Linked DNA regions of Homo sapiens: region 1 is linked to region 2. Evidence: fine-mapped expression QTL. A gene starts in region 2. The other region holds a variant in brackets. All regions are shown on one strand. Distances are from middle to middle. Region 1 has its middle 31 kb from the start of CACNG6. Region 2 holds the start of CACNG6 (calcium voltage-gated channel auxiliary subunit gamma 6).

Region 1 (2,899 bases), 31 kb before region 2:
GGAAGGAAGGAAGGAAGGAAGGAAGGAAAGAAGGAAGGAAGGAAGGAAGGAAGGATGGATGGATAAATAGCAGTTGTTTTTTGCCACGAAGTTTGGGGTGACTGGGTGTAAGTCAGCAGGTAACCAGAACAGAGAAGCTGCCCTGAGAGAGGGCAATTGTCCTAATTTAAAGGGATGACGCCTTTCGTTCCGTGGCCCCAGCTCTAGGTCCAAGTTGTTGCTGTCATTTTCGCCGCTAGGTGGCGGCTCATGACTGTTTCCAGCCAACGGCGGGGCAGCAAGAGGGGATGTCAATTTCTCTCCCAGCCTCGCCAGCTGATGGGGCCTTCAGCCTGGTGCCTAGTACATCAGTTAAGCACGGTGATTATTATTTCCTTGCAGAAACCCAACCTCACCCTACCTCTCCGCACGCTCATACCCTCGTTTCCAGCCTCAAGCCTTTTGCTGGAGTCCATGAAGCCCCGCAGAGAGGCTGCAGACACGGGGGCGCCTTAGCCCAGTTCCAGAGACCCTAGTTCAGCCTGCAGCTTGAGAAGGAAGTGGGGAGCTGGGGAGGCCACGCTCCCTCCGCTCCGGTCTTCTACCCCAGGGCTGGTCTTTCGCTGACGCTTCAGGAAATGAAACGCAGTACATTGCAACATCATGCACTGTTTCCCCCCCTACAATATGAAATTTAATTTTTTTAAGCATTACTGATTTATTTTTTAGGGCAAATAAAAATTGTATGTACTTATGGTGTACAACATGATGTGCTGAAATAGTATACGTTGTGAAAAGGCTAAATTGAGCTAATTTACATGTGCATTGCCTCACATTTATCATTTTTGTGTGTGTGGTAAGAACACTTACAATCTACTCTCTTAGGAAGGCTCAAGAACACAGCACATCCGTGTTAACTAAAGCCCCTCTGTTGCAGCATCATCCTCTTAAAGCCCATCCCCTCCTGGGCTTCCCTCACTGTGAGTCTGCAGCTGACACCACAAAAATTCAGGCCATCAAGTTCTAACTCATAAAATAGAATTACCATGGGATCCAGCAATTCCATTTCTGGGGAGATACCCAAAAGAATTCCAAGCAGGATCTTGAAGAGATATGTATGTATGTATGTATGTATTTTTTGAGACGGAGTCTCACTCTGTCAGCCAGGCTGGAATGCAGTGGTGCGATCTCAGCTCACTGCAACCTCTGCCTCCTGGGTTTAAGTGATTCTGCTGCCTCAGTCTCCCGAGTAGCTGGGACTACAGGCACCTAACACCATGCCCAGCTAATTTTTGTATTTTTAGTAGAGATGGGGTTTTGCCATGTTGACCCGGGTGGTCTTGAACTCCTGACCTCAGGTGATCCACCCTCCTCGGCTTCCCAAGCC[A/G]AGGATTACAGGCATGAGTCACTGCCCCCAGCCTATCTGTGTATTTATTTTTGAGACAGGGTCTCTCTCTCTGTTGCCTGGTGAGTAATACAGTAGTGTGATCTTGGCTTACTTATTGCAGCCTCGACCTCCTGGGCTCGAGCGACCTTCTCACTTCAGCCTCCTGAATAGTTGGGACTACAGGCATGCACCACCAAGCCCAGCTACTTTTAATTTTAATTTTATTTTATTTTACTTTTGTAGAGACAGGGTTTCACCATGTTGCCTAGGCTAGTCTTGAACTCCTGGGCCCAAGTGATCCACCCTCCTTGGCCTCCCGAAGTACTGGGATTACAGGCGTGAGCCACCACGCTCGGCCGGAAGAGATAATTTATACGTTGATGTTCTTAACAGCATTATTCACAAAAACCAAGAAATGGAAGCAATGTAAGTGCCATCAATGAATGAATGTGTAAAGAAAGTGTGGGATCTACATAAATGGACAAGCATTCAGCCTCTGAAAGGAAGGAGATGCTGACATGTACCTGTGGGAGGCCAACACTTGTTACCAAGAGACCTGATCAGTGAAGAACCTTGAACAGCCACCCCGGAATGACTTCTGGTTTGGGGCTTTCAAAGAGTGGGTGACAGTGTGGCCCTTGCCTTCATCAGCCTTGAATCCGCGAGGAGCTGAGCACGGGATCGTGGTCTGAGAATCAGGGGAAAGACTCCTGGGCAGCTTCCCTGTTCTGAGCAAGCTACTCCCCTTCCCTGGAACTGTCTTATGTATCCAGTGATTTCACAAATATTTGTCGAGCACGTACTATGGACCAGGCATTTTGAAAAGACTGTTACTGTTGGCTGGGTGCGGCGGCTCATGCCTGCAATCCCAGCACTTTGGGAGACCGAGGCTGGCGGATCATGAGGTCAGGACTTCCAGACCAGCCTGACCAACATGGTGAAACCCCATCTCCACTAAAAATACAAAAATTAGCTGGGCGTGGTGGTGGACGCGTGTAGTCCCAGCTACTTGGGAGGCTGAGGCACGAGAATCACTTGAACCCGGGAGGCAGAGGTTGCAGTGAGTTGAGGTCACACCACTGCACTCCAGCCTGGGCGACAGAGCAAGACTCCATCTGAAAGAAAAAAACAACAAACTGTAGATTGTAACAAGAGACATGCTAGAAATCAAGAGGGATGCACTATAACACAATGAGTGTATGGGAGGTGGGTCTTTCCTTTGCAAAGTGGGTAAGGGAAGACTTGGATGAAAATATGTTGAAGCTGAGAATTAAAAACAGTGTAAGTATCCAGCCATGAGAAATGCAAAGAGAATGACACTTCAGGCAGAAGGCACAGCGCAGGCAAAGGCCCTGGGGCAGGAGCAAGCCTGGCCAGTACTAGTTCCAAGAATGGACACAGGCCAGCGTGGCTGAGGCAAAGTGAGCCGGCTAGAGCACAGCAGGAGAAGGGAGGTGCTAAGCCCGGATCATGCAGAACTTTGCAAGTTGTGATAAGAAGTTTGAATGTGGGGCCGGGTGCAGTGGCTCACGC
Region 2 (2,899 bases):
GCCGCAGGTGTCCCTGTCCACGGGCACGTCCGCCTGCCACAGCCGCTTGGTGCACGCCTTCCACAGCCCCAGGTGGGCCGCTTCGCACACGGCGCTGCCGTTGGCCTTGTAGGTGTTGAGCTCCACCCAGAACTCGGTGCCCACGGACAGCACCGCCAGCGTGGCGCCCACGGCGGCCAGCAGCAGCGCCAGCTTCACCTTCCCCTCGCGCTCGGGCGTCAGCCCCGACCTGCCCTGCCCGTGCGCCCGCCGCCGGCCCGCGGCCCCCCGCCGCCGGTTCTCCTCTTGCAGGAAGAAGTTGGACCACATCATCTTATGGCCGGTGGGGTCGGGAAGGGGGAGGAGGCAGAGCCGGCGAAGGGCCTCGAGGGGCGGGAGCGAGGAGCGGCCTGGGGTCTTGAAGGGGGTGAGGGACTCAGTTTCCCCTGGGTATGAAAGAGGGAGAGCCGAGTCCTGTCTGGAATCTCAAATGCGAAAGTCGAGATTGCTTCTGGGGTTCAGAAGAGAAAAATGATCCCCAGGGCTGGGGAAGCCTCTGGGGTTCAGAGGAGGGTCTAGGTTGCCCTCAAGAACTTGGCAAAGAAGACGGGGCCCAGAGGAAAAACAAGGCCCCCACCCTGAGGTTTAGAGATAGAATTCGGCTTCCCAGGAGGGAGTCCCCCCAAGAGCTCCAGAGGAATGAGAACTGGTGCCCGCTGAAGCTCCCTGCAGCTCCAAGGGGCTGCTTTGGGGTCCCCGCTGGGGGGTTAACAAAAGGGAAACTGGTTTTCCTGAGAGATCTGAGCACCCCACTAGGGCTAAGAGTTTGGGGTACCCAGGAAGGGACCTGAGGTCCTGTGTGTGTTTGGAGGAGATGTGGCCGGGGTTCCCTTGGGCTCAGAGTTTGAGAACAGAGGACTTGGGGACCCTCTGGGATTCGGAAAAGGAAGACCTGGGGTCCCGGGAAGCTCCCAAGGGGAGGTCGGAATTCAATCCGGGTCTCAAGAGAGGCAGTAGGACCCCGGCATCCACAGAAGGAGAAGAACAGAGCCCTGGCTGGGGCTCAGAAGAGGACTGGGCCTCGCTGGAATTCAGGAAAAGGGGATAGGGGTCTCCCCTGCCATTCAGAAAAGATCCGAGGTCTCTACTGAGCCTGGAAAAGGGGCCGGTGGCCGGAAGACAGAGTGGAGTCCAGAGGCGGGAGGCTACGGGGCCTCCCCGAGGGCTGGGGCAGATGGGACCGGGGGCCCTCCTGGGGCTCACACTATGGGGCTGTGGTCCGCACTGCGGCTCGGAAAACCAGGACTGAGTCCCCCCAGGGTTCAAAGGCCAACCGCGACCCGCAAGAGACGCTGCGCCCCTTCGGGATCAGTCCGTCTCCCTCCCCCGGGCTCCCAGGGCCTTCCCGGTCGGGTTCGCGCCAGGCTCAGCCCCAGGCCAGGGCCCCCCCTCGGGGCTCCCACCCCCGACTCCCGAGCAGGGGCCCCTCTCGCTCTCCTGCCTCGGCCCCGCGCCGACCCCAGCTCCGCGCTGCCTCCGAAGCGTCCGGCTGTGCCCGCCACCGCCACCGGCCTGGCCTCCGCCCGCGCCCGGCCTCGTCCCCACCCGCCCACCCCCCACCCTCCACCCTCCACCCTCGGGGCTATTTCGGGCTTGACCCGTAAATAACACCCGCACCTGTCGCCCGGCGCCTGTTGCCATAGGGATCCCGGGTGTTTTAAGGGGACGAGGAAGGGGGGAGGGAGGCCGCCCGGGGAGGAAGGGGCCGAGCCTGATGGGACTTTCATTTCACTAAGGGGCAAGAGCGGCGCCGAGAGTCCCAGCTCCGCAGTCTCCCGGGCAGCAGGAGACGGGCGGGGCAGCAAGTCTGACTGGGGTTACCAGGGAGGAGGGGCGGGAGGCAGGGCCCCGGGTCTCAGGGAGGAGGGCCTGAGGCCAGGAGTCTTGGGTCCCTAAGGGAGAAGAAGCCTCGGTACCCCACTTCTGAGTGGTAGAGGAAGAAGGCCTGGGTACCCAGAATCTTGGATCTGAGAGGAGAGGAACCTGGTCTCCTAGGTCCTGGGCTCCTGAGTCTGAGGGAGGAGGGGCTGGGGGCCTGAACTCCTGGGTCTGAGGGAGGAGGGGCTGGGGTCTGGACTCCTGGGTCTGAGGGAGGAGGGGCTGGGCCTGGGCTCCTGAGTCTGAGGGAGGAGGGACTGGGGCCTGGACTTCTGGGTCTGAGGGAGGAGGGACTGGGGCCTGAACTCCTGGGTCTGAAGGAGGAGGGGCTGGGGGCCTGGACTCCTGGGTCTGAGGGAGGAGGGGCTGGGGGCCTGGACTCCTGGGTCTGAGGGAGGAGGGGTTGGGGGCCTGGGCTCCTGGGTCTGAGGGAGGAGGGGCTGGGGGTCTGGACTCCTGGGTCTGAGGGAGGAGGGGCTGGGGCCTGGACTCCTGGGTCTGAGGGAGGAGGGGCTGGGGGCCTGGGCTCCTGAGTCTGAGGGAGGAGGGGCTGGGGGCCTGGACTTCTGGGTCTGAGGGAGGAGGGACTGGGGCCTGAACTCCTGGGTCTGAAGGAGGAGGGGCTGGGGGCCTGGACTCCTGGGTCTGAGGGAGGAGGGGCTGGGGGCCTGGGCTCCTGGGTCTGAGGGAGGAGGGGCTGGGGGCCTGGGCTCCTGGGTCTGAGGGAGGAGGGGCTGGGGGCCTGGGCTCCTGGGTCTGAGGGAGGAAGGCCTGGGCCTGGACTCCTGGGTCTGAGGGAGGAGGGGGCAGGGGGCCTGGACTCCTGGATCTGAGGGAGGAGGGGCTGGGCCTGGACTCCTGGGTCTGAGGGAGGAGGAGGGCCGGGGAGCCTGGACTCCTGGTCAAGGCGTTGGCAGACCCAGAGTCCTGGGCCTCAGGGAGGAGACTGGGGCCAGAACCCTGGGTCTTGAAGGATGGAAGG

The links. PIP is the estimated chance that this variant, and not a neighbour inherited with it, causes the effect.
Region 1: its variant is fine-mapped to the expression of CACNG6 in whole blood (TOPMed, PIP 0.96).

The regions. Positions count from the first base shown.
Region 1 is chr19:54,021,420-54,024,318 of GRCh38, reverse strand. No RefSeq gene overlaps it. Among named protein-coding and RNA genes, the nearest start is that of CACNG6, 31 kb to the right of the region's middle. RefSeq lists a silencer at 1,327-1,530. The variant A/G (reference allele first, on the strand shown) is at 1,367.
Region 2 is chr19:53,990,291-53,993,189 of GRCh38, reverse strand. CACNG6 (calcium voltage-gated channel auxiliary subunit gamma 6) reads right to left here and starts at 1,553. Exons shown (of 4, transcript NM_145814.2): 1 at 1-1,553. The coding sequence starts at 312.